Linked DNA regions of Homo sapiens. The protein of the gene in region 1 interacts with the protein of each later gene in a biochemical or structural test. Each region holds a gene or a part of one and is shown in the gene's direction. Other genes may lie near its edges.

The links.
Region 2: the proteins of ARHGEF1 (region 1) and GNA12 form a complex in vitro, tested with the Homo sapiens proteins (one study listed by BioGRID).
Region 3: of the proteins of ARHGEF1 (region 1) and RAP1A, one has a biochemical effect on the other in vitro, tested with the Homo sapiens proteins (one study listed by BioGRID).

Annotation. Positions count from the first base shown.
Region 1 is NC_000019.10:41,878,497-41,886,619, forward strand, and holds the start of ARHGEF1 (rho guanine nucleotide exchange factor 1), read left to right. Parts: upstream 1-4,687; 5' UTR 4,688-4,793; exon of another isoform or gene 4,794-5,971; coding exon of another isoform or gene 5,972-5,997; intron 5,998-8,123. Other genes in the region: CD79A (B-cell antigen receptor complex-associated protein alpha chain isoform 1 precursor), read left to right, coding at 494-793, 1,039-1,157, 2,174-2,242, 2,371-2,484. UniProt on the Homo sapiens protein: Seems to play a role in the regulation of RhoA GTPase by guanine nucleotide-binding alpha-12 (GNA12) and alpha-13 (GNA13) subunits. Acts as a GTPase-activating protein (GAP) for GNA12 and GNA13, and as guanine nucleotide exchange factor (GEF) for RhoA GTPase.
Region 2 is NC_000007.14:2,792,309-2,799,308, reverse strand, and holds part of GNA12 (guanine nucleotide-binding protein subunit alpha-12), read left to right. Parts: intron 1-4,165; coding exon 4,166-4,381; intron 4,382-7,000. UniProt on the Homo sapiens protein: Guanine nucleotide-binding proteins (G proteins) are involved as modulators or transducers in various transmembrane signaling systems. Activates effector molecule RhoA by binding and activating RhoGEFs (ARHGEF12/LARG).
Region 3 is NC_000001.11:111,699,789-111,706,788, forward strand, and holds part of RAP1A (ras-related protein Rap-1A precursor), read left to right. Parts: intron 1-3,547; coding exon 3,548-3,688; intron 3,689-4,554; coding exon 4,555-4,698; intron 4,699-7,000. UniProt on the Homo sapiens protein: Counteracts the mitogenic function of Ras, at least partly because it can interact with Ras GAPs and RAF in a competitive manner. Together with ITGB1BP1, regulates KRIT1 localization to microtubules and membranes.

The DNA of each region.
Region 1 (8,123 bases):
GCTGGGCCTGGCTGAGGCTGGGGTGCAAAAATGGACCGGGAAGGCTGCGGGAGGAGGGGACGCCTGCACTGCTTCTGGAAGGAGCTGTCTGGACAGCGGTCCTCCAGTGCCTGGAACAAACATCCAAAATCCAGAGAGTTCACAGGGCCAGAGTACAAAGTGGGTATGCGGGAGGGGGGCAAGAGATGGCGCTGCAGAGGTGAGAAGGGCCTCCCAGGGGTCTTACCATCCCAGGGAGTCTCATTCTCCTCTCCCAGGATATCCTCACCCACCCCAACCAGGTATGTCCTCTCTCCTTCCCAGGGGCTTCTTCACTTTCCCGCATCCCCCCTCTCCCCAGGATGTATCAGCCCCTGTCAGGGGCTCTCTCTCTCCCTCCCCACCCAGGAGAGTCCTCACCCTCTTCCCAGGAGTGCTGGAACTGCAGGGGCCAGGGCTGGGGAAATGTGTCACCATCCCCAGTCCCTGACCCACCCACCCTGTCTCTCCACAGGCCCTGGGTGCCAGGCCCTGTGGATGCACAAGGTCCCAGCATCATTGATGGTGAGCCTGGGGGAAGACGCCCACTTCCAATGCCCGCACAATAGCAGCAACAACGCCAACGTCACCTGGTGGCGCGTCCTCCATGGCAACTACACGTGGCCCCCTGAGTTCTTGGGCCCGGGCGAGGACCCCAATGGTACGCTGATCATCCAGAATGTGAACAAGAGCCATGGGGGCATATACGTGTGCCGGGTCCAGGAGGGCAACGAGTCATACCAGCAGTCCTGCGGCACCTACCTCCGCGTGCGCCGTGAGTGGCCCAGCCCTGGCCCCTACTCCCACTGTCCCGCTGGGGACACTCGGTTTATCTTTGAAGTGGGGATAGAGCCAGTACCTTCAATGTGGGTTTCAAACCGGCTTGGACAGAGGGACGGACATTCTCCTCTGCAGAGTGGGGTCTCTGGGGGGTCTGGGGCCTTGCAGGAGGTGGGCGGGGCCAGGAGGCTAGGGAGGGCAAGAGGGGCCAGGGCTCTGAGCCATACTACCTCCTTGCAGAGCCGCCCCCCAGGCCCTTCCTGGACATGGGGGAGGGCACCAAGAACCGAATCATCACAGCCGAGGGGATCATCCTCCTGTTCTGCGCGGTGGTGCCTGGGACGCTGCTGCTGTTCAGGGTGAGCCCCCTCGGACCTCTGAGTCAGCCGGGCGAGGGCCTGGGCCGAGGGACCCCCAATACCCAGGTAGCCCTCTAGAGCCTGAGGTTCCCCATCCAAAACTTGGGAGAATGAAAGCACCCACCATATAGGGGCTGTGGGAGTTAAATGAATGAATATAAAGAAGGGACTTGAACTGGCGCTGAGCCCAGGGGGTGTCTTCAATTTAGTTTCCCCTTCTGGGCTGTCCTCACGTCCACCTCCCCCCAAGAAGAGTCTCATTCTTCTCCCTAAGAGTGTCCTCACTCCCCTCCTGCCCTCACCCAGGAGTGTGGTTACCCTCCAGGTGTAGCCAAGACCAGGGAAGGTGGGGCCTGGTCCTCCCAGAATCTCTGATCTGTACCAGCCTCTCCTTAGGCACTACAGAAAGTGTGACTGTTATTGTTATTATTCATGGAGAATAGTAAGGGAGTGGAGACTCAAGAAGACGCTAGCTTGGGAGGCCGAGGCAAGAGGATCACTTGAGGCCACAAGTTTGAGACCAGCCTGGGCAACACAGCAAGACCCTATCTCTACACACACAAAGTCTTAAAAAAAAATTAGCCAGGCATGGTGGCACACACCTATAGTCCCAGCTACTCAGGAGGCTGAGGTGGGAGGATTGCTTGAGCCCAGGAGTTCAAGGCTGCAGTGAAATATGATGTTGCCACAGCACTTCAGCCTGGGCAACTGAGGGAGAAGAAAGAGAGAGAGAGAGAAAGAGAGAGAGAGAGAGAGAGAGAGAGAGAGGGCGAGAGGGAGGGAGGGAAGGAAGGGAAGGGAAGGAAGGAAGGAAGGAAGGAAGGAAGGAAGGAAGGAAGGAAGGAAGGAAGGAGAACACTGGTTGTAGACTCAGAGAGAACTGTTACATAACCAGTATGTGGCCTTGGGGACATCTCTTACCCTTTCTGGAAAAGTACTTCCTGGCATCCAGGAGGGTCTGAAAGATATTCACCTCCCCCTGCTCACTGAGGCACCCACCCCACCCACCCCTACAGAAACGATGGCAGAACGAGAAGCTCGGGTTGGATGCCGGGGATGAATATGAAGATGAAAACCTTTATGAAGTGAGTGAAGGGTGGGGATGGGGTAGGGGCAGTTGTGTTAGGGGTGGGGGTGTTCCCTCTGGGGGTGGCTGGGGGCAGGGACCCCAGGTGTCAGGGTGCTGATGTTCGCTGCCTCATTTCCATCCCAGGGCCTGAACCTGGACGACTGCTCCATGTATGAGGACATCTCCCGGGGCCTCCAGGGCACCTACCAGGATGTGGGCAGCCTCAACATAGGAGATGTCCAGCTGGAGAAGCCGTGACACCCCTACTCCTGCCAGGCTGCCCCCGCCTGCTGTGCACCCAGCTCCAGTGTCTCAGCTCACTTCCCTGGGACATTCTCCTTTCAGCCCTTCTGGGGGCTTCCTTAGTCATATTCCCCCAGTGGGGGGTGGGAGGGTAACCTCACTCTTCTCCAGGCCAGGCCTCCTTGGACTCCCCTGGGGGTGTCCCACTCTTCTTCCCTCTAAACTGCCCCACCTCCTAACCTAATCCCCCCGCCCCGCTGCCTTTCCCAGGCTCCCCTCACCCCAGCGGGTAATGAGCCCTTAATCGCTGCCTCTAGGGGAGCTGATTGTAGCAGCCTCGTTAGTGTCACCCCCTCCTCCCTGATCTGTCAGGGCCACTTAGTGATAATAAATTCTTCCCAACTGCAGACCTTGGCAGGAGTCGTGGATCTTACGGGAACCGCCTCTCCCACATGTCCCTCAGACCCAGGAGTCCCAGCCCAAGCCACTCCCTGCCCACTCCCCACACCTGGGACCAGGTAGCCAGTCTGGGCTGCCCTCCTGGGAGAACAAGATGTCTCTTGGGAAGGTCCCCAGACCAACTGAAGGACTGGTTTGGCCCTCTTTGCAGGGCCTCACCCTAGGGTCATATCCTTAAGCAAGAAGGGGACAAGATCAAGATGGCTGTGGCTACCAAATTACTTACACTTTTTTTTTTTTTTTTTTTTTTGAGACAGAGTCTCACTCTGTTGCCCAGGTTGGAGTGCTCACTGCAACCTCTGCCTCCTGGGTTCAAGCGATTCTCCTGCCTCAGCCTCCCAAGTAGCTGGGATTACAGGCGCCTGCCACCATGCCCAGCTAATTTTTGTATTTTTAGTAGAGGCGGGGTTTCACCATGTTGGCCAGACTGGTCTTGAACCTCTGACCTCAGGTGATCCACCTACCTTGGCCTCCCAAAGTGCTGGGATTACAGGCGCCTGCCACCACGCCCGGCCGCTTTTTTTTTTTTTTTTTTTTTTTTTGAGGCAGAGTCTGACTCTGTCGCCCAGGCTGGAGTGCAGTGGCGCAATCTCAGCCCACTTCAACCTCCACCTCAAGCGATTCTTGTACCTCAGGCTCCCGAGTAGCTGGGATGACAGGCATGTGCTACCACACCCAGCTAATTTTTGTTTTAGTAGAGACAGGGTTTCGCCATGTTGGCCGGGCTGGTCTCGAACTCCTGACCTCAAGTGATCCACCATGCTTCGGCCTCCCAAAGTGCTGGGATTACAGGCATGAGCCACTTTATGCGTATTTAAGCCTTGGAAACACAGGGACTATCTTGTGGATTGGGGCTAGTACAGAATTCAGACTGCAGCCTTTTCCCGATGCGTTGACTTACAGAAGGGGCATTTTGGAGGGTCTGTGGTCCTAACCTGGGGATAGCAGGGAGATCCCGGGGCAATGACAGAGAGGCACAGAGACACGGATTTCCTGAGAAAGGGAGAGGAGAGAGGCTGAGACCCAGGGATCATGAAGGGGACGAGCAAGGGAAGGAAGAGATGATGAGACCCTGGGAATCCGGGAGAGAGACAGGGACGTGGAGAGAAAGGGACAGAGAGAGAGCGAGAAGGAAAGGAAGAGACAGAAGGGAGAAGGGGCAACCGAAAATGGGCACGAAGAGGCCCAGGCACAGCAACAGCTGGGGAAATGACAGAGACTGAGACGGAGATGCAGAAAGATACAGAGAGAGCTGGAGAGGGTAGAGAAGGGCTTTCGGGGAGAAAGTGATGGAGGGACAGAGAGGAGAGGTGGAGGCCAAGGAGGGAAAGACCCCAGTAGAGAAAGACAGAGGGACAGAGAAGGGGATGCAGACGCAGGCGGGAGCACACCCACAGAGGCGAAGGAAGGGCGCAAGACCATGAGAACCACAGACGCGGAAAGCCGGGGAGGTCGTGGCTCGGTCTAGGGCGCACGGGGAGCAGGGCTTGCCCCCCAGCACCTCCGGGGAGGTGACCCCAGCCGGGAGATGCGAGTCCCGCGGAGCCCGCGCCCGGCGGACGGACCGATGGACAAAGCCGGGGAGAGCTCGGGCGCGGCCGGGGCGGGGGCCGGTGCCCGCAGGGACCCGGGCGCAGCGGGGAAAGGAGGGGCGGGCAAGCGGCGAGAAGGGGAAGGAAGCGGAGGTGCCGGGCGGGCGCGGGGCGCGGGCAGGAAGCGGGGAGGGGCGGCGGGGCGGGGGCCTCCGGAAAAACGCCCCGACTTCCTGCCCCGCCAGAGCCAGGAAGCGGGAGCCGGGACCCAGGGCCCGGGATCGCCGAGCCCGACCTCGGGCGCCCCGCCGGTCACCTCCGCGCGGACACCAGGTACTCGGTCCCCGGCCCCGCCCGGCCTCCTCCCCTCGGCTGTTGGGGGAAGTGGGGAGGAGGAGGGAGGGGCTGGGGCGCTGCCGGCAGCGGAGGGGCCCCCTTCGGACCCCACGGAACCAGCGGCCGCCCCTCCTTGGGCCTCAGTTTTCCCATCTGTCAAAGGGAGCAAAGAGGGGAGAACTCACACTTGACGAGTGCCCCATAGGTGGGGACGAACGGTGCGAGGCCGGGGCCAAGGCCTCCCACCTGCTCAGTGGAGAACGGACGATCACTACCATTGTACGGGTGGGGAAACCGAGGCCCGGGGAGCCAAACCGACTCGTCCCAGGGAACGCACATCGTGAGAAAGTGTGGAGTTGGGATTTGAACTCGCACGTGCTTTCCGCAAAGCGCCATCCTCCAACCCCCGCATGCTTTAGGGCCACCTAAAAATGAAAAACAACAATAACAACAACGACGAGGGTCGCTGTGAAGCTGAAAGTTGCAGAGTGCATTTGAAAGAGTTTTCGGAAAGCTCTTTTCTAGGTCATTAATTATACCGTGAGAGACAGGTGTAGGGAGAGAGCTGGAGGCCTTCTCCCATTGTACGGATGGGAAGACTGAGGTCTACAGAGAAGTCATTACTTTTTGCAGATTACACTGCATGTCAGAGGGAAAGTTGTGCTGGAACTCAAGACTATTGCTTTTCCGGTTCCAAAGGAAGGGGCTGGGGGTGGGAGACGGAGGGGATTGATGTACGAGGATTGGAAATTCAGCGGGTCCCCTAAGTGGGGAGACTAATAGGACGGGGAGCCCCAGTCCGCCGTCCGAGTGCTCAGCGCTGGGGTGACTAGGAGATCTCCGATCGAACTCGGGAGGAGTTGGACCCATCTGCACCTCCGGGCGCGGGGCGGGGCCCGGGGAGTGACGGGGGCAGTCGAGATACGGAAACGCTGGCCCTCCAAGACAGGCCAGAGCGGCCCTATCTGGCCTGCGTGGCGCAGTACAGCGCTAGAGCGGCCGGCGGGAGGAGTAGAGTCGTCGGGGCCGGAGCCCGGCAGGAGCCGGGCTAGAGCGGCTGGCAGGAGGAGTGGAGCTGGGCGCAAAGGTGGACTCAGGGCGGCTAGAGCGACGCGGCGGCAGGGGTGGGGAGAGTGCGGAGCCCGAGCGCGGAGGCTTCGGTTCCGGTGGCGGCGATGGCTTCTCTTTCCACCTGGAGCAGGTGAGGGACGCGGTCCCCAGCGGGTGTCAGACCCTGACTCTGCACGTCCTCCCCGGCATCCCTGGCCGTGCACACTGCCACGTCCCCCGTAGGATTTAGGGCCCGCGTAAGACCCGCCACGTCCATGTAAGATTTGGGTCTCGTGTAGACCCGCCTCATTCCGTATAAAGTCTTACAGACCCTCCAGGTTCCTGCCAGCCCCCCATGGAGAACTGGCTTCTTATAGACGTGGGGTCCTCATAGACCAGTGGCATCCCCTAGAATCCGGGGCTCTATAGACCATGGGTCTCGGGACCCACCACGCACCCCTATGGAATTCTGAGTCCCTTTTAAGTCTCCAGAGGTTCCACAGACTGGCAGCTGTCCCTATAGAATCATGATCCTGTATGATCCCTGGATCCTTTAGACCCACTGTGTGTCAAATAGAATCTGGGGAGTTACACATTCCAACGACTCTTTTAGGTTCTTTAAGGCTCCAGAAGTTCTTGGAGACCCTGAGTCACCTGCTCAACACATTATAGACCCTGAGACCTCCATAGAACTCAACACCCATGTGGCCCCCCAACCCATGGACCTTCTAAACCAGCCCTAACCCCCCAGCGCCCCATGCACGCAGTGTTCCCTCTGCTGGACCCCCCAGGCCTTGTCAGTTGCCTATAGATCCATCTATTCTCTGACAGCTTCACCTATAATTCTCCAGCCTTTGTGGGACTCCCCCAAACCCCTCCTCCTAAACAGGCGACACTCCTCGCCTCCATCATCTCCAACCCCCAAGCCTCTGTGGAGCAGCCGTATCCAACTTGCACTCCTGCCTAGGCCATAGTGACCACATACCCGTGACTTTTCCAGGCATCCATAAGAAGACATGATGTGTCTCAGAGCTTTGGTTCAGATTTTAGTTTCTGAAGGGTAGGGTGGGGGCTCCCCATGCTCTGAAGCAATGCTCTCTGTTTTATTTTGTTTTATTTATTTATTTATTTATTTTTGAGACGAAGTCTCACTTCTGTTACCAGGCTGGAGTGCAGTGGCGCGATCTCAGCTCACTGCAACCTCCGCCTCCCGGATTCAAGCGATTCTCCTGCCTCAGCCTCCCGAGTAGCTGGGACTACAGGCTCGTGCCACCACGCCCAGCTAATTTTGGTATTTTTAGTAGAGACAGGGTTTCACTATGTTGGCCAGGATGGTGTCGATCTCTTGACTTCGTGATCCGCCCGCCTTGGTCTCCCAAAGTGCTGGGATTACAGGCGAGAGCCACCGTGCCTAGCCTATTTTATTTTAAGACAAGGTCTCACTCTGTCGCCCAGGCTGGAGGGCAGTGGCACAATTTTGGCTCACTGCAACCTCTGCCTCCTGGGCTCAGGCGATCCTCTCATCTTAGCCTCCCAAGTAGCTATGACTACAGGCATGAACCACCACACCTGGCTATCTTTTGTAGAGATGGGGGTTTCACCATGTTAGCCAGGCTGGTCTCGAACTCCTGAGCTCAAGTGATCCACCTGCCTTGGTCTCCCAAAGTGCTGGGATTACAGGTGTGAGCCACTGTGTCCACCAAATGCAGTTTATTTTAAATGCGTAAACTCTGTAGCCCAACTGCCCAGGTCTGAGTCCTGGTTCTGCCTCTTATGAGCTGTGCCTCAGTTTCCTTCTTTGTTAAATGGAGGTGAGAATAATAATGATCTCTTGGAGTCACCGAGAGGATTAAATGAGTTATTACCTGTCAACCAGCGATGCCATGCCTGGCACATACTAAGTGTCTCTTTTGTGTCAGCTGTCATTTCATTATTATTGTGATAAGGAATAAGGAGATAAGAACTTGGCAAGTGCACAGTTCCAGACCTGGCACCAAGCACTTGCAAAGATAATGAGTATCCCCTCCTTTGCCTTTTTAAAATTTCCCTGCCTCAGTTGAGCGTTTCTACCTCTGAGTGGGATGAGCATGCACCCTCCACGTCCGTGGTCATGTTTCATAGTGAGACAGGGTCTCACTGTGTTCCCCAGGCTGGTCTCAAACTCCTGAGCTCAAGCGATCTTCCCACCTTGGCCTCCCAAAGTGCTGGGGTTACAGGCATGAACCACCTCACCTGGCCAGTTTGCAAATTTATTAAAGTGAATGTTTAACAGTACTT
Region 2 (7,000 bases), on another chromosome or scaffold:
TGTGCCTGGCCTAACTGTTGAGTTTTGAATGTCCTTGTATATTCTAAATGAGTCCTTTGTCAGATATGGCAGATGTGTGGTTGGCAAATATTTTCTCCCAGTTCATAGCTTCTTTTCAGCCTCTTAAGAGGGTCTTTGGCGGAGCAAAATATTTTCGTTTTCATCAAGTTCAATTTATTGATAATTTTTCTCGTGTGAATCATGTATTTGGAGTCACATCTAAGAACTTTGAGCACACCCTACATCCTGAAGATATTCTCCTATGTTATATATAGTTCTACATTTTGATTTGATTTTGTATAAGCTGTGAGGTTTAGGTCAAGGTTCTTCCCCACCCCCTCCCCCGCTCCCCCCAATTTTCTTTACCTGTGGAAGTCCACTTCCTCCAACAGCGTTTGTTGAAAAGACCAGGCTTCCTCTTTTTAATTGCTTTTGCACTTTTACAAAAATTACCTAGCTGTATCAGGGGCTATCCCTGGGTTCTCTGTTATGTTCCATTGATCTGTGGGTCTGTCACCTCACCAATACCACACAGTCTTGATTATCATAGCTATATAATAAGTCTTAAAATCAGATAGACTGATTGTTCCCACTTTTCTTTTTCAAAGTTGCTTTAGCTAATTTAATGCTTTTTCATATAAATTTTCAAATAATCATATTTATATCTACAAAAGATCCTGCTGGGATTTTATGGAAATTGTGCTAAACCTGTTTATTAATTTAAGGATATTGGTACCGTGTTGAATCTTCTAATTCGTGACCGTGGTATATCTATTAGATTTTGAAAATTTCTTTCCTCAACATTTTGCAGTTTTCAGCACATAAGTCCTACACATATTTTGTTAGATTTATACCTGTTTCGTTTTTTTAGTGATAGTTAGTAGTAGTACATCTTTCATTTCACTTTCCACATGTTCATTGCTAGTATATAGAAAGACAATTGAATTTCGTGTGTTGACATTATATCCTGCAACTATTCTGGATTCATTTGTTTATTCTAGGAGTTTTTTTGGTAGATTACTTTGGGATTTTCAACATAGATCATCTTTTTATCTGCAAATGGGTTTAGTTGTGTGTTTTCTTTTTTTGTGTGTCTAATCTATTTGTTTTCCCCCCTGCTTTTCCTGAGCTGTGTGATCTTTTATTTCATTTTCCTACCTTGTCGCACTGGCTAGAACTTCCAGAACCATGTTGAATAGCAGTAGCAGAAGTAGGCATCTTTGTCTTTTCCTAGTGTTGGAGGGAAAGCATTCAGTCTTTCACATTAATTATGAGGTTAGCTGTATGTTTTTTTGTCAGTGTTCTTTATCAAGTTGAAGCATTTCTCTGTTCCTAGTTTGCAAAGGTTTTTTAAAATCATGAGTGGGTGGTAAGTATTTTTTTTATCCATACATTTGTCTTTCTAGCCAGACTCTGAGTTTCTGGGGGTCAGATACTGCTTCTTAAAGTTTGTTTCCCCCACAAACAAACACACTGAACAAATGTTTGTGGATTGGTAGAACTAGGCATGGTCTCCAACGGCAGACAGACAAGGTCCTGAGGGGAAAATCAGGGAGCATCTCTAACCAGACCGTCCTGGTCAGCTGGGTCTGGAGGAGACTTTCAACTACTCTTTGGTCATCATTACGTCTGACTCAGTGGTTCAAGGCAGAAGTGGAAGTTATAGGCACCAAATTGATGCTGCAGGAGAGAGATGAAGGAGGCAGAATGGATTCATCTGCTCTGCCCTGGGTGTCAGAAATGAAGATTTTTAGGATAAGTGCCAACTAAAAATCATTAAGTTGTACACTTCAAATTGATGAGTTATATGGTACATGGATTATAGCACAGTAAAACTGTTATTTAAAAAGGAAAAAAAAAAAAAGGCCGGATGCAGTGGCTCACACCTGTAATTCCTAGTGCTTTGGAAGGCTAAGGCCAGAGGATCAGTTGAGCTCAGGAGTTTGAGACTAGCCTGGGCAATATAGTGAGACCCTGACTCTACGAAAATCTTAAAATTAGCCGGGCGTAACGAGGCATGCCTGTGGTCCCAGCTCCTTGAGAGGCTACGGGCAAGGATCACTTGAGCCCAGAAGGTCGAGATTGCAGTGAGCCATGTTCATGCCACTGCACTCCAGCCTGGGTGACAGAGCAAGACCCAGTCTCCAAAAAAGGAACATAGATAAGTGCCTAGTGAGCAGGTGACCCTGGTTTTCTCTGTCCTGGAGGATGGGATGCTGCTCTCAGCTGGCCTGAGTCCCTCAGATTGCTCTGAGATGAGAAGGCTTTTCCAGATGGACAGATGTGTACTTGATAGCCTTCTCAGGGCCCTTGACCACTCTGTATACCCCCAGTGTAGACCATACCAGAGAGTATGCAGTGTGCCCCTCAGAAGAACACAGAAGTTCTCATAAACACTGCCTTGCTGATTTCGAAACATTAGTCTAAGGATGGTGGAACAGACCTCCTAACTGCTCAGGGGGTGCTGTTTTTGCTGAGAGAATATTTTCCAAAGGCTGGCTGCATTCCCTAATACTATGTTAGTTATTTCTTCATCCCTTTGACCCTGTTGATGAGGTAAGAAGGGGCAGAACAACATTAACTTTATCTTTAACAATGAGGAAACAAGCAAAAGAATGAAAAGTAGTTTCTCATCACAAACGATGGTGACGTTAAATCTAGAACATGATCCCCTGGCTCCCGTTTTGGTGGGCGGGCTACTTGGCTTGTCGTATTTTAGTCTTTTCCTGTCTCATGACTGCTGACTGCCTGGATTTGTATGTTTTCCCACCCGTTTTAAGCTGGAAGAAGCAGTTGTATCTTTTGGAATAGAGGAGCTGCCAGATTTCAGTGATGATGACAATAGTAGCGCTGGTAGTACTCTTGGCAGTACAGTCATCTCCCGTTATCCACAGCCAGCCGCCAACGGAAAATAGGCGCGGACGGTGATACCACATTTGAGAGACAGAAGGAGAGACCATATTTACTTAACTTTCATGACAGTATATTGTTATAATTGTTGTATTTTATTATTAGCTATTATTAATCTCTTACTGTGCCTAATTCATAAATTAAATTAAACTTTAAAAACAATACAGGTAGGGCTTGGTACCGTTCAGACATCCACTGAGGGTCTTGGAACTTATGCCACGGATAAGGGGTGGAGGCTACTATAGTTGTTGTTAAAACATTGTTTTTTTGGCGGGGAGGCTGAGGCGGGCGGATCAGCTGAGGTCAGGAGTTCGAGACCAGGCTGGACAACATGGTGGAACCCCCCTCTCTACTAAAAATACAAAAATTAGCAGTCCGTGGTGGTCTGTAATCTCAGCTAAAAATAAAAAATTAGCCGGGCCTGGTGGCAGGTACCTGTAATCCTAGCTACTTAGGAGGCTGAGGCAGGAGAATTGCTTGAACCTGGGAGGCGGAGGTTGCAGTGAGCCGAGATCACTCCATTGCACTCCAGGCCAGGGCAAAAAGAGTGAAACTCCATCTAAGAAAAAAAAAAAAAAAAAAGTTGTTTTTTTACTGATACACTTCATTTTCCAGTGAAATTTTCTGAAATTGTTGCCACCTCCTCCCCGCCCAGTTGTCTTTTTTCCAGTAGCTTTGCAAATGAATGATAGCAGAAAGCAGACTTCTTTCTGTGGTGCTTATGTACATCTGTTTTCTTTTTTTTCTTTTTTCTTTTCTTTTTTTTTTTTTGAAACAGGGTCTTGCTCTGTTGCCCAGCCTAGAATATAGTGCAGCAATCATAGATAACCGTAGCCTTGACCTCCTGGGCTCAAGCAATCCTCCCCGCTCAGCTGAGACTACAGGTGTGCCACCACCAAGCCCAGCTGTTTTTAATTTGATTTAATTTTTTGTAGAAGCAGGGTCTTGCTCTGTTGCCCAGGCCGGTCTCAGACTCCTGTGTTCCAGCAGTCCTCCCTCTTTGGCCTCCCAAAGGGGAGGCTCACAGTGTGAGCCACTGCTCTCGGCCATGTGCGTCTGTCTTGGTGAGGTTATACTGCTGAGAGTTAAGACTTTCCACATCACAACAAACAAACCAAGAGACAGACTCAGGCTGCACAGCTCAGAGCTTGTGAGTTTTCTGCGTTATGACAATGGATGCCCATTTTGAGCTTCTCTAGCGTGGTTTAGTCTTTGGAATGCAATTAAATCCTCTCTTCTTTCTTTTATTTTCTAGGGCTCAAGGGTTCTTGTTGATGCACGAGATAAGCTTGGCATTCCTTGGCAGTATTCTGAAAATGAGAAGCATGGGATGTTCCTGATGGCCTTCGAGAACAAGGCGGGGCTGCCTGTGGAGCCGGCCACCTTCCAGCTGTACGTCCCGGCCCTGAGCGCACTCTGGAGGGATTCTGGCATCAGGGAGGCTTTCAGCCGGAGAAGCGAGTTTCAGCTGGTGAGTGAGTAGGCCTTCTTGCTGGGCACCTGATAGTGTGTTTTTTACATGACTATTTTGGACCGTTAGTTGAATTTCCTTAAAAACTGTGTAACAGTCCAAGCAAGCTCTAAATCACCGTAAGTTGTAATGATCAACAACCAAAACACGGGATGGAGGCAGATGCTATATAAAAGGCTCAAGAGGGGAAGGAGCAAGAGCCACTCAGGTAAGATCAATAGCTTTCTTCTGGGAATACGGAGGGTTCTTAGAATCATCAGCATTGGCACAACCCGAGAAATTTAGTTTTTTTTAGAGATCTTGTTCATAGTAGGAAATAACACCCCCCACAACAGCTTCCCACTTTGGACCTGTGGGTATGGGCAACTCACGAACGCCTTCAGATCAGCGCCTCGGAAGCAAATCCAACTCCTCCCAGTTGTTCCCTTCAGATTTGTTCCTTTCGTTTTAAGGTCTAAAAACTTCACAAAGCCCAGTTATTTAGATTCATTTGGGGTCTGAATCTATAACCAGAAAATCTGGGGGGTTTTGCCTGTTTGCTTTTTGTTTTTTTCTACCTTTCAAAATTAACCGTATATAAAGTAAAATGTACAATTTTTCTGATAACCAGCATAAATGTGCACAGCTGATATTAATACACACCCAGGGTATCCAGAAATGCCTCTCACTCTCACAGCCGTTTGCCCCCTTAGCACCCAGAGTCAAGTTGAAGTCATGAATCCTTTGCCGTTCTTATGATTTTGCCATAATACCCATTTATTATTTGTAAACACGACAGTCTTGAGTTTTACTGATTCTTAACCTTCATATAAGTCATTTCTTAGTGTATAGTATATATGCTTCTGTGACTTGCCTTTTTCACTCCACATGTTGGAATTTCATCAGGCGAGGCACATAGCAGCGGTTCTTCCCTTTTCACTGCTGTCTGATGCTCCACTGTGGAAAGATACTAGGATCCATTCCTTCTTTCATTGAGGTACTTTTGAACTGTTTTTCATATTTTGCTATTGGAAACGTCTTTTTTTTTCCTTTTTTTTTTTTTTTTTGAGATGGAGTCTCGCGCTGTTGCCCAGCCTGGAGTGCAGTGGCGCCATCTCAGCTCACTGCAACCTCCACCTCTGGATTCAAGTGATTCTCCCACCTCAGCCTCCCGAGTAGCAGAGACTGTAGGCACCCACCACCACACCAGCTAATTTTTATATTTTTTAGTGGAGATGGAGTTTTACCATGTTGGCCAGGCTGGTCTCGAACTCCTGGCCTCAGGTGATCCACCCGCCTCGGCCTCCCAAAGTGCTGGGATTTCAGGTGTGAGCCACCATGCCCCACCCTATTCATATCTTTTACCCATCCTTTTCCTGCAGAGTAATTTTTATTTTTCTCAATCATCTGAGAGGTGCTATATAGTCTGCTAATAGTCCCCTCAGTTCAATTTCCTTATATTCTTCTCCCAAGTCCCCCTAATGTTAACATCTTAACCACTATACAACTATTAAAACTAAGAAGTTGACATCGGTATGAAAGCATCAATTAACTGTAGACCTTGTCTGAATGTGACCCACCTTTCCTCTTGCGCTCCTGTCCGCTGCTTCCTCTCGCGTCCTGTCCGCTGCTTCCTCTCGCGTCCTGTCCGCTGCTTCCTCTCGCGCTCCTGTCTGCTGGATCCTGGCCTGGAATCCCCCATTGTGTTTAGTCATTGTGTCCCCTTGGTCTCTTGCAGTCCATGATAGCTCCTTGATCTTTCCTTGCCTTTCATGACCTTGACATGTCCAGAGCACTGGCCAGGTATTGTGTAGAATCTTCCTGTTTGGGTTTGTCTGGTATTTTCTCGTCATCAGGATGAGGGGATGCATTTTTTTGGCACAGAAACCGCAGGCGTGCCGTTGAGCCCTGCTCAGATCATCTGATCAGGAAGTGCGTGATATTGTCCAGTGGCTGGTGATGCAAGCCTGGGTTGCTTGGTTGAGGCACTGTTGGCCACCTTTCTCCACTGGGAAGTCAGTATTTTCTCTGTGTTGTTAACACATATCTTAGGGAGATACATTGAGACCCTGCAAATAGCCTGTTTCTCCTCAGGCTTTTGCCTGTAAATGTTAATGTCCTCCAGGGCATCTTAAGGATGACGTTTTTACTAGCCCCTTTCCATCTGCACATTCCTTCTCAAGTTAACTTTAACAGTTAAGGTAAAAGAATCAAAAGAGAGTGGAAGATGTGGTTGCGGTAGAAAGGAAATTTTAATCTCCTAAAGAGCAGGGCTGGAAGAAACAATTGGGAAATACATGTCAGTATCTCAATGTGAAATTGAGGTTTACACCTTTTCCCCATACACTCACAGAGTCTGGGAAAGAAGATTCTCATTCATTTAGAACTTGGATGGAAATTGAGGATTTTCCAAAGAAGGAAGCAGAAGTGTCTGGGGCTGATCGTACTGAGTGAGGCTTCTGTCTGGGATTCGGCATGGTGCAGCAGCTTTGACAGGCTTCTGTCTTTGCCCTGTTCCGTCAGTGCAGGGTGTCAGTGCTGGAAGGGACCTCCCAATTTAGGAAGTCAAGCCCTTGTATTGTCACGACATGGAAGTAAGCCCGTACCAGTTATGCTGTGCCTGAGGCCACATCATCTTGG
Region 3 (7,000 bases), on another chromosome or scaffold:
CTTCAACTTCGTTACAACCTGTAGTCCATTTATCCTAACATCTTTTTATTATCCCTTATATCTTCAACCCCCTCTGCATATAGCTTCAGGTCCACGGTCCATCATTTATAATTCTCTTGAATATATCCTCAACTCCCTTGACTTTTCAGCAGCCTTTGACTCAGTTTATCATTGCTTTCTAATGTAAAACCTTTATTCATTTGGCTTCCAAGAAACAATACTTGCCTGATTTCCTCTGTCTCATTGGTTACTCCTAAGTCTCCTTTCCTAATTCCTCTTTATCTCCCCTACCTCTTAATGTTGGAGGACCTCAGGGTTCAATACTTGCACTTCTCTTTCCTAACAACACTGCTTTGGAGATCTTGTAGTTGCTTGGTTTTAAATACAATCTGTATGCTGATAAATACTAACTTTGTAACCCTGTCTGTATTAGGCCGTTTGCATTATTGTAAAGAAATACCTGAGGCTGGATAATTTATGAAGAAAAGAGGTTTAATTGGCTCATGGTTCTGCAGGCTATACAAGCATAGCTCCAGCATCTGCTTCTGGTGAACACCTCAGGAAGCTTACAATCATAGTGAAAGGCAAAGAGGAGTAGGTGTTTTACATGGCAAGAGCAAAGAGTGAGCGGGAGATGCCACACACTTTTAAACAACCAGATCTCACGAGAACTCATAATTGTGAGGATAGCACCAAGCTATTCATGAGGGATCCACCTCCATGACCCAAATACCTCCCACAGGCCTCACCTCCAACACTGGGGATTACATTTCAGCATAAGGTTTGGAGGTGACAAACATCCAAACAATATCCCTATCTCTCATTTCTTTTCTGAACTTCGAGCTCTTATATCTAACTGCCTCTTCAATATCTCTTTTTGTATGTCTTATAAGCATCTCAAATATAACATGTCCAAACTGAACTCCTGATAACCTTTCCCTGACCTGGGTCTTTCCAGTCTTTCCCATCTCAGTAAATAGTACCTTTTTAGTTGGTTATGCCTGAAACCATGGAGTCGTCCTTGACTGTATTTTTTGTTATATTATGTGTACATCCAAACTCTCAGAAAACCCTACTGGCTTTACCTTAAAAACTTACCCAGAACTCAGCTACCACCACTAGAATCTAATGACACTATCTTGGTCTAAACAGTTGTCATCTCTCAGCTGGATTATTTCAATAACCTCAAAACTGATCTCCCTGCTTCTCTTCTTCACCCCCTTCAGATTGTTCTCCACACAGTAACCATCATAATTCCATTTAAATGTAAGTCAGATCATGTTTTCCTCAGCTTAAATTATGCATTAAACTCAGAGTAAAAGCCCAGGTCTTTATTACATTTCCCTGAAAGGTCCAAATGAGAATCCTCTCTCTTTGTCCCTTCTCTGGCCCCCACTGCTATACTCACCCACTAGGTAACAATGTTTCAATGAATCCAGCCTCCTTACAGCTTCTCATACACTTTAGACATGTTTCCCTTTGGGGCCTTTGCATTTGCTCTTTCCTGTGCTTGGGGTAGTCTTCCTCCACATAACCATAGAGCTTATTCCCTCACCTCCCTCACATGGTTGCTCAAATGTTACCCGTGAGGCCTTCCCTGAGCATAGTCTTTTAAAATATAACTTTATATTCCTACCCTCAAAATAAACTCCCAACCTTTACTTTTCTCTATAACATTTATTACCATCTTGCATACTTGATTTTTGTCTGTCTCCATGTATACTCCTCCAGGGCAGAAATTTTTGCCTCTCATGATCACTAACATATCCATAGGGCTACAACTATGTCAGTGGATATTTGTTGTGAATGGATGAAACTTGTAGAATGTCCTTAAGAAGGAGGTTGGCATTCTCAATAGGAGGGAACACCAACCACAGCAGTTCTGTAAGGACTTTTCTTAAACTGGATTTTCAGAACTCAGGTTGCCTGTATGTTTATTCTTTTGATTTAATAAGAAGCAGAGACCATGATCTCTAGAGAACATCATAGAAATAGTGTTGCTAGTATTTGTAGCACTTAACATTTGTAAGTAAACTCATTTATTATATAAACATTTGGACAGTGGCAGAATTTAATTGGTTACCATAGTGGTGCAATTCTGGAATATGCAAACTTTATCAATGAAAAATCCAGGAAACTTCCAGTTTTTACATCTTTCCCAGAAAATACACTGGCAGCAGTATAGGAAGCTCAGCCATGTTCCTGTGGCACACCTTAGACGAATTTGAAGCTGGGGAAATGGCTGAGTGGTAGCATAGCTAACTCCCTGGAATACAAGAAAGAGTACATCAGCCAGGGTAGAACAACCAGAACTATTTTAGATGTAGTAGACAAAATAGAGGTAGTGGTCATGGGGAACAAGGAAGCCAAGGCACAACAAGCTTAAGAAACTTTGTGGATTTATCTTTTACGTTTAATGCATCCAGAGGTAAAAAGATCCAAACTGTATAGTTATTTAATATAAAGACCCAAGACATACACATTTTTAATATTCTGCCATATGTGCTTTTTAAGTAATATATATATATAATACCAAAACTTTTCTAAAAGAAGATTTTGTCTTATATTAACCTCCATAGTTACAACATAAAGTAATGATTGTCACCAAATAAAAGGAAGTTTAAAATTAAGTAATTTTAATTTGGCATGACTAAAGCTCAGTAACTAAATGTTAACCATTAGTAAATTTAACTAAAGGGGATAGATAGTCATTGCACTATTCTCACATCTTTTCTAAAGGTTTGGAATGAGGGGGAAAATGAAAATACATGAACAAGCTCTTTTTTTTTTTTTTCCGAGACAGAGTTTCACTCTTGTTGCCCAGGCTTGAGTGCAGTGGTGCGATGTTGGCTCACTGCAACCTCCACCTCCCGGGTTCAAGTGATTCTTCTTCCACCAAGTAGCTGGGACTACAGGTGTGCACCACTACGCCCGGCTAATGTTGTATTTTTAGTAGAGGCAGGGTTTCACTGTGTTGGCCAGGCTAGTCTTGAACTCCTGACCTGGGGTGATACACCTGCCTTGGCCTTCCAAAGTGTTGGTATTACAGGTGTGAGTCATTGCCCCTGACCATTAACAAGCTCTTATAAAGAGTTTATTGACTGTCAAGATGATAAAAATATTGCTATGCCATGGGAATAGAAAAAGAAAGATGATAAAATCTGCCAGTAGAGATATTGATTCTGGATGATGAAGTCATAGTTTAGTATTGGGCTTATACCTCAGATTGTTAGCACTTGGGCAGTAGTTGTGTCATAAATTTGCAAATAAAATTATTTAGGATCAAAAGATCTGTTTCTAAAAAATTATATACAGCTCTAAATCACACAAAAGCAAATTAAAGTGGTTAAGAATTCCTTTTTAATTCTAGTTTACTGTCATTGTTTCTAGTCACCTCAGTTGCTAGAAACTTGTGTTATGTCTTGTTTTCTGTCAGGATAGCAAGTAATAAAAAATGTTACTCACTTGTAATTATGCTGTTTTAAATTGTTGCAGTATACATTCAAGAAATTTATATATTTATAATTGCATATTTTTTAAATCATAGGAGCAATTTACAGCAATGAGGGATTTGTATATGAAGAACGGCCAAGGTTTTGCACTAGTATATTCTATTACAGCTCAGTCCACGTTTAACGACTTACAGGACCTGAGGGAACAGATTTTACGGGTTAAGGACACGGAAGATGTAAGTATTTTTTCTCTCTGTAAGATGTTATGCCATCTCTCTGTGGCCAAATAAAAAAGTGCCTGTTTTCTCTATTAGTAGAGGATTTGGAAGCTATCTACCACATGCCTGAAAGAGCCCCTGTGACCAAAAGAAAAAAATTTAACTTTCAAAATTAACCTCAAAATTATGTGGTGAGATGTTTAGAAAATGAGGACATATGTGATAAAGTACTCATTGTGCTATAGGTTAAAAAGTGCAGTAGAGGAAAAAGAGGAGCCAAAGAATACTTCATAGAAGTGGGACCTGAGTTGAGCTTTGAAAGGTGATGGTTGTGTCAGAAACAGTGTTCAAAGAACATTATTAAGATCCATAGTGGTGTGTTTTTATTTCTAAAATTCCATTGGTATAATTCACACATCACAGTCTACCTCCCGGGCTCAAGTGATCTTCCCACCTCAACCCCCTGAGTAGTTGGGACTACAGGTGTGTGCCACCCTGCCTGGCTGATTGTTTTTGAATTTTTTAGTAGAGACCAGGTCTCACTATGTTACCCAGGCTTGTCTCAGGCTCCTGAGCTCAAGCAGTCCTCCTACCTCAGCCTCCCTGGGATTACAGGCATGAACCATTGTGCCTGGCCAGGATTATATTCTTAAAATAATTTGGCATATCTATGTAGTAGGATCTCTTCCATTTTTTTTTTTTTTTTGTCTCTTCCTTCTTCCTTCGCCTCTTCCCCTCAACATATACTTTTCGTTAGTATTTGATGAAGCTTGCGGTCCCAACTAATGCATTTCAGTTGGTGGCAGATAATTGCTTATTTATTTTTTTAAAAGGCTAAGTAATGAGTATGTTATTGTTCATTTTACGTTTTTTTCTTCCCACAGGTTCCAATGATTTTGGTTGGCAATAAATGTGACCTGGAAGATGAGCGAGTAGTTGGCAAAGAGCAGGGCCAGAATTTAGCAAGACAGTGGTGTAACTGTGCCTTTTTAGAATCTTCTGCAAAGTCAAAGATCAATGTTAATGAGGTAACCTACAACTGCTGGGCAGCACAAACAAGTGCCTTTTTAGTTTGCTTTAAGTTAACAGCCAGACTTTTAAGAAAAAATTTTTATCTTTTAAGCAATCTTGATTCCATAATTTTATAGGAAACACTAAGTAATTCCTGGAAACTATATTTTTTAGCTTGCATAAGGTCACTTTGATGGCTGTATGAGGATACTTAAATTTACCTTATTGTAAAAGAGGAAGCTAAAATTGAAGAATGTGTGTAAAATCCTGCTAAGCCTCTAAGTGATATGCGATAAAGTGGTGTGTAAAAATTGTTACATCACCTTATATTGTAATAATTATTTACCCAAATGTATATAAATAGGTTGTAAAGTCAAGTTGGAAAATAATATGTTTTTATGGATATCACAGAATTGTGTTCTGAGTCTTACCTCACCTTTGGTGCATGACTCATAAGTGGGTAATCTGTGTGGGTATGGACATGTACCTGGAATTCACTCAGTCCTTTAGGCCTGATACAGCTGATGCACAAGGCTTTTGTGTGGGGCATGGGGGTGGGGTCACTGGGTTAAGCACTCCACTATCTTGAAAACAGCTGTGGACAAGAATACTTAGCAAATAAGCTGCATGCCTGGGTGTAAAGGGCCAACAGTTTACTAGTTTACTGGGCCCCTAAAAATTTAGAGCAATTTCCAACTGTCCCCACCAGTCAACCTTAAATAGTTCCCTTGCTTTTGTTAACCTTAACATAAGCCTTTTAAAAAAATAAAAACAACAGAGTGGGCTTCTTTCCTGCCGTTGCTTTTGCCATTTGTAGCATTACAGGTAATCAGTCAGAATTCAGATCACTTAACTACATAGGTGAGAGTGAGAGTGGGTTAAGTTATGAGTCCTCTGTTTTTGCTATTCTCTCTGGCCTGTGGTTCTGCTGGCCACTTTTTCTTGACTAATATTATGCTTATAGACTATTTGACTTTTAAAAATGACCAGGTTACTTTAAACACCTGGCAGGTAAAAAAAAATTAAGCTTGCTTCAACTTCTGTATTTTACAGATAATCAAGAATGCCAAAGCTTGTTTTTTTATGTGAAACCATTTTTAACAAGTACATAAAAACAAGAAATTTATAAATTGTATTTATTCAGCAAATATTTATTGACTATTGTGTGTCTGGCACTGTGTCAGGCCCTCAGGTAACAGTCACTCAGACAGACACTATTCCTGCCCTGAAGAAGTTTGCATCCTACTGGGGGAACAAGTCTTTCAGCAATAATTAAAGAAAAAAAGTGATTTTGATAAAGAATTTGTTAGAAATTGTGAATATGTTTGGCTAGCAGAACAGTGACATGAGGTCACTATCTACAAGATAATTGGCCTTACGGGATGTGGTTCCTTGCTGTCCTTGTCCTTACCTCCATGGGACCCACCAACCAAGTTCATCAGACTCCAGGCTCCGGTGGGGCTGGGTTGGGCCTGAGTCCAGTGCATAGGACTTCTCCCTTTGGGAGCCAGAGGACAGTACACTACATGTTTGTGAGAACCTACATGCTATTAAACTTCCTCTGGATTAGTTTCCAATGCAGCAGAGATACTTTTTCATAGCAGTCTTGTTAAAGCAGAGAGTTTATAAACGAGGGTTTATAAAAACAAACATAGAAAAACCATAAAATGAAATGCATTAGCCATCTCAAGAATCTTTACTTTTTGGAAAACATACAAACTTTATGCTCAGTTCTTGAGAGTGGGGAGAATGGAGCAGATAATTTGAGTTTCTTTTAATATTTTTCTCTTTATAACCCAATAATCCAGCTACAGGATTTCTTTGGTAGTTAATAGTTCCTCACACAACTTTTGCCTTGTAAATTTTTTTGTGAGTTTTGAATGCCTGAAGTATAGAGAGATACTTTCAAAAATTCACCTCTTGGCCTTAAATTTGAAAACAGACACCAGGACATACTGCTTGGCTAAAGAGCCCCCTAATTCATTCATATATATATATATATAATTTTTCAAAAACTCTTATTCACACCACTTTGCAACGTTCTTAAAGTAGTATATGGCTATGCCAGAATCACAGTAGTCTTAATCAAGAATTAATTGTTCTTTGCTGAGGCTGGAATAGTAATTGGAATCAAGACAACCCAATTTAGGAATGGGAGAGGGATTGAGAAACTCTATTCTGTGTTCCCTTTAGATTTTTCTATAGTTCAGAGAGATGAGGAAGAACCTAGGCTGGGGCCTTTCAGCATTTCTAACCAAATATTATAGTTCGAACTTGCCCTCATCACTGAACCATCTGCTGCTGTGAGGTAGGCAATGT